Linked DNA regions of Homo sapiens. The protein of the gene in region 1 interacts with the protein of each later gene in a pairwise test. Each region holds a gene or a part of one and is shown on either strand. Other genes may lie near its edges.

What was found.
Region 2: the proteins of LMNB1 (region 1) and ABCG8 interact in a two-hybrid assay, tested with the Homo sapiens proteins (one large-scale study listed by BioGRID and IntAct).

Annotation. Positions count from the first base shown.
Region 1 is NC_000005.10:126,829,136-126,832,635, reverse strand, and holds part of LMNB1 (lamin-B1), read right to left. Parts: intron 1-3,500. UniProt on the Homo sapiens protein: Lamins are intermediate filament proteins that assemble into a filamentous meshwork, and which constitute the major components of the nuclear lamina, a fibrous layer on the nucleoplasmic side of the inner nuclear membrane.
Region 2 is NC_000002.12:43,880,230-43,883,488, reverse strand, and holds the end of ABCG8 (ATP-binding cassette sub-family G member 8), read right to left. Parts: 3' UTR 501-3,259; downstream 1-500. UniProt on the Homo sapiens protein: ABCG5 and ABCG8 form an obligate heterodimer that mediates Mg(2+)- and ATP-dependent sterol transport across the cell membrane.

The DNA of each region.
Region 1 (3,500 bases):
GAGGGACCTTTTCTTTGCTTAAGAGACAGCATTTCTTGCCAGGCGCAGTGGCTCACACCTGTAATCCCAGCACTTTGGGAGGCCAAGGCAGGCAGATCACCCGAGGTCAGGAGTTAGAGACCAGCCTGACCAACATGGTGAAACCCCGTCTCTACTAAAAATACAAAAATTAGCTGGCCATGATGGCACGTGCCTGTAATCCCAGCTACTCAGGAGGCTGAGGCAGAAGAATGGCTTGCATTGAGGTTGCAGTGAGCCGAGATCACGCCACTGCACTCCAGTGTCACAGCAAGACTGTCTCAAAAAAGAAAAAAAAAAGAGACAGCATTTCTGTTTATTATTATTACTATTATTCATCCCTTTTTTTGGAGACAGAGTCTCACTCTGTCGCCCAGGCTGGTGTGCAGTGGCATGACCTCGGTTCACTGAAACCTTCACTTCCCAGGTTCAAGCGATTCTCATGCCTCAGCCACCCCAGTAGCTGGGATTACAGGCATGCACCACCACGTGCGGCTAATTTTTATACATTTTTAGTAGAGATGGGGTTTTGCCACGTTGGCCAGGCTGGTCTTGAACTCCTGGTTTCAAGTGATCCACCCACCTCAGCCTCCCAAAGTGCTGGGATTACAGGCATGAGCCTCCACACTTGGCCCCTGTTTATTATTTTTAAAGGGGTGGGGCGGGGGGAGCTGTATATCAGTAACTTTCTGGTTACTAAACTGAAATTTCCGCATAATTAGTAGCAGTTCTTATACCTTCCATATTTCCTGCAGGGGAGGAAGTACTATCCAATTCGAAATATCTGCTGAGAAGTTTCCACTGCTTTTTATCCTATTCTGTTACTAAGAATTCTACAAATTATTTGACATACTAAATTCTTTATAAAACTCAACATGAATTCAGCTTAAAGATCTTAGCTCCTGGCAAAGATAAGGTGCTAAATAAATGCTGAATAAAATGAAGCTGGAAGCCAACTGTGATCTCAGGGACTACCAGCAACAGGACCACCTGATAAGTGAGAAGAAAGGACAAGCTCCTTTCATTCCTTTCAGCAACTGATACCTCTTGAATGAAACAAAATCAAGACAGATGAACACTGTACACTATTTACCAATAACGTACTAGTGAGGTTCCAATGTATTCTGTACAGAAATAGGTCTCCTATCATTCACTAAAGGTATGACAGAAAGCAACTATTTCCATTTTCTACTAAAAAGGTCAAATACAGATTACTTTCCTGTGGAAAATGCTGACTTGGCACAAATGCAGCAGTGTTTTTGCTTAAGCACAAGGCTAACCTGATGATCTGGCAGCAAGTAAATGAGTGTGTCCTCAAGAGTGCTGCAGAGCATATAATTTTATTCTGTACCCTGTCCTAAGGTCACTCAAGAAAGAGAATGCTACAGGGGAAGACACAATATTACTTCAGTAAAAGCTTATCTAACACAGACCAGCTAGTTTACAATGGCAGAGAAAGAAAATCAAAACCCAGTGTCACAGAAATGAGACTTCGATTTGAAATATGCCCAATAATGTGTTTTGTAAATAAAGTAAGGTGGCAGAACAGTATTTTGTGGGGATTTTTTATTACTCTTGCAGGACCAAGGAAGATGGACCATTTTGAGCCTCTCAATTAGCCAGTAACTTCAATTCTGTGAAATTGGTCTATCTTTACAAACAGAAATAGCCATTTCACAAATATCAGTGTTTTAACCAAATTAGTAATAAAAAAAATGTGATTCTTTAGATCAACCACCGTTCAAGCTATCAACTAGGAGATAGCAGCATATAAAGCAGAAAAATAAATTCTTAAAAAACTTTGAGAGTACCCAGCTTTTCTCAACTCATCTTAAAATGAGGAACGAGTCAAATAAAATCTTCTATAACAAAATTACCACATTCCAGCTTCTAGAAGCTCGTGGTATACATCCCATATGCAAACATTGGCTCTTAAGGCTCATGATGTAGCTTAAGACTATTAGCCTCAATGAGAACCTCAGAAAACAGCAACTTGCCTGTCTTCATTATTATGAATTACCTTAACATAACTACTTTAAGTGTAACCCTGCTGTTAAGCACTCTTCATTTGAAAACATGCAAAAACCAATTAATCTAATACAGAAAGCCGTATAAAAAATGGGTGAGCTAATGTCTAAAAATCTAGGTAGAAAAATAATAAATAATAATTTAGAACCAAAAAGCTGTTGGGAGGTTTAGATCAAGGAAATTGTTATTAGTCAAGATGCTACTAAATAAATGTGTTTACCCCAAGTGTCCTGAAAGGTTCACATAAATAGTCTTACATGACAGGCTTTACTCTGTCTATAAAATGCAGCATTGGTCCGCCCCTGCTGCGAGCCTTGGGCATATGAAGGTGCACTGATCTGTGCAGTGGTGCCCGGAGCTGGCTGCACCTGCTGATGCTGCTCATCACTGCACAGCTCTGTGCTCAGTCACATAATGCTGGAAGCCTGGCATCAGCCACAGTAGGAGTATTTATACCACAGAAATTAGCAAATGCTACAAATCAGGGCGATCTTATGTGGACGAAAGATGATTGTTTATATTTTATATATTGCATCTCTACATATATAAGTAATCATTTGCATATACAAAAGTTTCCATTATATCTATATTCTGGAAAGTTTGGAAGGACTGCTTTATTTTTTATTTCCCTCATAAAAAACATCTTGTTTTTGCCATGGTGACAATCGCTGTTTTTAACCACCCAGTGCCCCCTCCCTCCTGAATAAGAGCCCCTAGGTTTACCTGGGTACACACCCCCCATGGAGCACACGTGTGTCACAAGGAGCCCAGTGCAATGTGGCTGTAGAGGGGAGGAAGAAGTCTTGAGCTCTAATTCCGCCCTCCCAACTCCAGGAACTGGTTTAGAGGTGGGCACGTGACCCACCCTAGTCCAGTGTGAGTGAAGCCCAGGATGGGTGCCTCACAGGGGATGAAGTTTAGCTTCCCTCCATAATTCAAACACTCAATATCAGATTATTTGGTGGGCTGGATTGTCCATTCTTTTAACAAACTTCTACTGCCTTCTGCTTGCTAGGCTGTTCTGAGAGAGTTCTGTCAGGAACGAGGAGAGAAAGTGGTATGAATACAGGTCTTATTTCATTAGACAGTTACTTTTGGTATGTATTCATTTAATTGGGTAAGACCATGTTTATCTGTCAGTAGTACCGGACCACGTTAGCAACAATCTATAAACTCCACCATAAAGAGCACTTTTTTGAAAGATCACCTTCCCACAAAAAGCAAATAGAAAAGACGTACCTCTGGGAGCAGCCAGCAGCTATCCTGCGTCCCCAAGGGAGGCAACCAGAAGAGAAACAACAGACAGATCCCCGGGGACATGCTGTGAGCCACTGGATTAGGTCCACTATTTAAATTTTTTATTATGTGAGCCCAAAAAATTTCCATTATTTCTAAGCCAGTTTAATTGGGTTTTCTGACATTTCCAATGCCCCAGCAAGAAGAAAAAAAAAAAC
Region 2 (3,259 bases), on another chromosome or scaffold:
TGCCTCAGCCTCCCAAGTAGCTGGGATTATAGACATGTGCCACCACACTCGGCTAATTTTGTTATTTTTAGTAGATATGGGGGTTCCACCATGTTGGCCAGGCTGGTCTTGAACTCCTGACCTAAGGTGATTCACCCACCTTGGCCTCCCAAAGTGCTGGGATTACAGGCATGAGCCACCACGTTCTGTTTTTCTTGTTGTTTTGTTTTGTTTTGTTTGTTTGTTTGGAGATCGAGTCTTGCTCTGTTGCCCAGGCTGGAGTGCAGTAGCGCGATTTTGGCTCACTGCAACTTCCGCCTCCCAGGTTCCAGTGATTCTGCTGCCTCAGCCTCCTGAGTAGCTGGGACTACAGGCACTTGCCACTGTGCCTGGCTAATTTGGTATTTGGGATAGAGATGGTGTTTCACTATGTTGCCCAGGCTGATGTTGAACTCCTAACCTCAAGTGATCCACCCACCTCAGCCTTCCAAAGTGCTGAGATTACAGTCATGAGCCACTGCGCCCAGCCGAAAGAGCTTTATTTTTAGCATGGGTCAGTAGAGCTTATTAGCAGTTTGGGGAAACAAGAATATTTCCAATTTTAAAGAGACGAGACAATCATACAAATGATGTGAGCACTATTACATAGAAAGCAGAGAAGTGTTTTTGAGTTGGTTTGTGTTTAAAAATCTCAACCCACTGCTTAAACGTTGTTTTAATTATTAGCTGCTAACACCACACGTGCTGCTGTTCCTAGTGCACCAGCAGAGAATGGGCTGTGCTCCATCTGCCTGCCTGCCTACCTGCTGAAGCTGCCTCAGGCAGAGCTCATGTGATAAAGACAGGGGATGTTGCTCTGTACCCAGGCCACTTTAAATGAAGAACAAATCATTATCAAGTACGAATGACAGATGACTTGAAATCTGAATTATCTAGTGCAGACTATTCACAAATAAGGATGTCTGTTGTCTCTCAGGTGTGAGCATTGGATATATTTTGCAAACAAGCAAAGGCCAACCAACAAAATATTTCATCACTTTCCCCGCATTCCAGTTCCTTGCACGCTTCCTCAGGGCCTGTTTGGTGCTCCAGACCCCAAGGCCGGTTGGGCCAAAGGAAAGTGGTCTGTATGCTGTGCTAAGCCACTATGAGGAACCCCTGGTCCCAGGTCTGTTAACACTTGGATTTGACAGATTTGAACATTTCTGTTGCTAGTTGTTTAATTTGGGATCATGACAAGAGTTGAAGTAGAAGAAAACAAAAGCAAATGCGAGATCTACCTCTGTAGACTGGTTTAACCCAGGGCAAGATTACATCTTATATACTATTTATAGGAACAAGAGCAGATTTTTTTTTAAATCAGGAAATATTTGAGCCAATATTGGTGATTATTTTCTGTTTAATTAAAATTCCCCACCAATAGCATAACTTGAAATTGGAGGGCTTAAAATGCAAATTTGAAAACCTTTACCAAGGCTCTGCAAACTACACCCTCAGGTCAAATCTAGCAACCTGCCTGTTTTTGTAAATAATACTTTCTTAGAAGACAGCCACACCGGCTGTACGTTACTATAGTCTACAGCTGCTCTCACACTGTAACAGCAGAGTTAAGTAATTGCAGCAGAGCCTATAAGGCCCACGAAGTCCCAAATATTTACTATCTGACTCTTAACAGGAAAACTTTGCAAGCCATGCTTTCAATACTGACAAATAAACAAATCTCTACCCTTTCGCAATGCAGGGCAGGGCTCGCTGAACAGCATGCATGCCTCGAGAGCCTTGGGTTTTTTTTTTTTTTTTTTGAGACAGAGTATCGCTCTGTCACCAGGCTGGAGTGCGGTGGCTCAATCTCGGCTCACTGCAACCTCTGCCTCCCGGATTCAAGCGATTCTCCTGCCTCAACCTCCCAAGTAGCTGGAACTACAGGCACGCACTACCATGCCCAGCTAATTTTTGTATTTTTAGTAGAGGCAGGGTTTTGCCATGTTGGCCAGAATGGTCTCGATCTCCTGACCTCGTGATCTGCCCTCCGCGGCCTCCCAAAGTGCTGGGATTACAGGCGTGAGCCACCGCACCCGGGAGAGCCTTGGTTCTTTGTTTTCCTGGCCTCACAATGCCTTGAAGAGCATTTTAAACAAAACAGACCCATGGGATCAGAGTCTCTGGGCAATGGGTCCACATTGGCTTTTGTTAAAGCTCCAGCATGGGCAACCAGGGTGGAGAACCACCGCTGTAGGAAAAACACAAATAAATGGCAGCTGCTATATTTTCTCCATCCCTCCTGCCTTTGCACTTTGCCCTTTTCCCCTTCAGCACGGCATACAGAGCCACTGAGTTACCAAAACCCATTGCAGACCGAATGGTGAACTCACAAAGTCAGGTGATGTATCTTAGTGGCTGTCAATCACTGCACATTAGAATTACCTGGGGAGTTAAGGCAAGCTACCAATGTCCTCTTCATCCTTCCCCCTTCTTCATTCAGGCCTAACGCCATTAGGGGACCACAGTGACAAGGAGGTGGGGGGAAGTTGTGGTGGGCCACGGGAGTGTGAGGAAGACAGCTGCAGACTCAGGGAAAGCTGGACTTGGGAGTTAGAGCCTGAGCAGGGTAGGCAGGACGTCCATACAGGAGAAGGCGTGGCAGTGTAGATGGGAGATTACTTACCTGCAGGCGGTTAATCAAATGAGTAAATAACCTAAGGGTAATGGAAGCCAGGTTTCTCACAATTAGAGAAGAGGGAAGAACCTAGGATCAACTCTGTGATGCTGGATTGGAAATGGATGTTATCAGAGTAAACTCATGTGTACTTAGGTGTATATGTATGCACATGCGCGCGCGCGCGCGCACACACACACACACTCCCTAACTCTGTTCACTGAGAGAGCCTGGGAGCAGAGATGTTCCACAAGCAAAGAGCATACTTATCACCAAAACCTTGGCTTCTAAATACCATTTTCCACTAAGAGGAACCCAGATTCTCTGGAGAAACATCGGATTCCAGGGCTGAGATGGGAAAATACAAGATGAACCTGTGACACCAGGTGCGGTGGGTCACACCTGTAATCCCAACACTTTGGGAGGCCGAAGCAGGCAGATCACTTGAGGCCTAGAGTTCACAACCAGTCTGGCCAATATGGTGAAACACTGTCTTTACTAAAAATACAAAAATTAGCCAGGTGTGGTGGTGGGCACTGTTAATCCCAACTACTTGGGAGGCTGAGGCAAGGCAATCGCTTGAACCTGGGAGGCAGAGGTTGCAGTGAGCCGAGATCGCGCCAT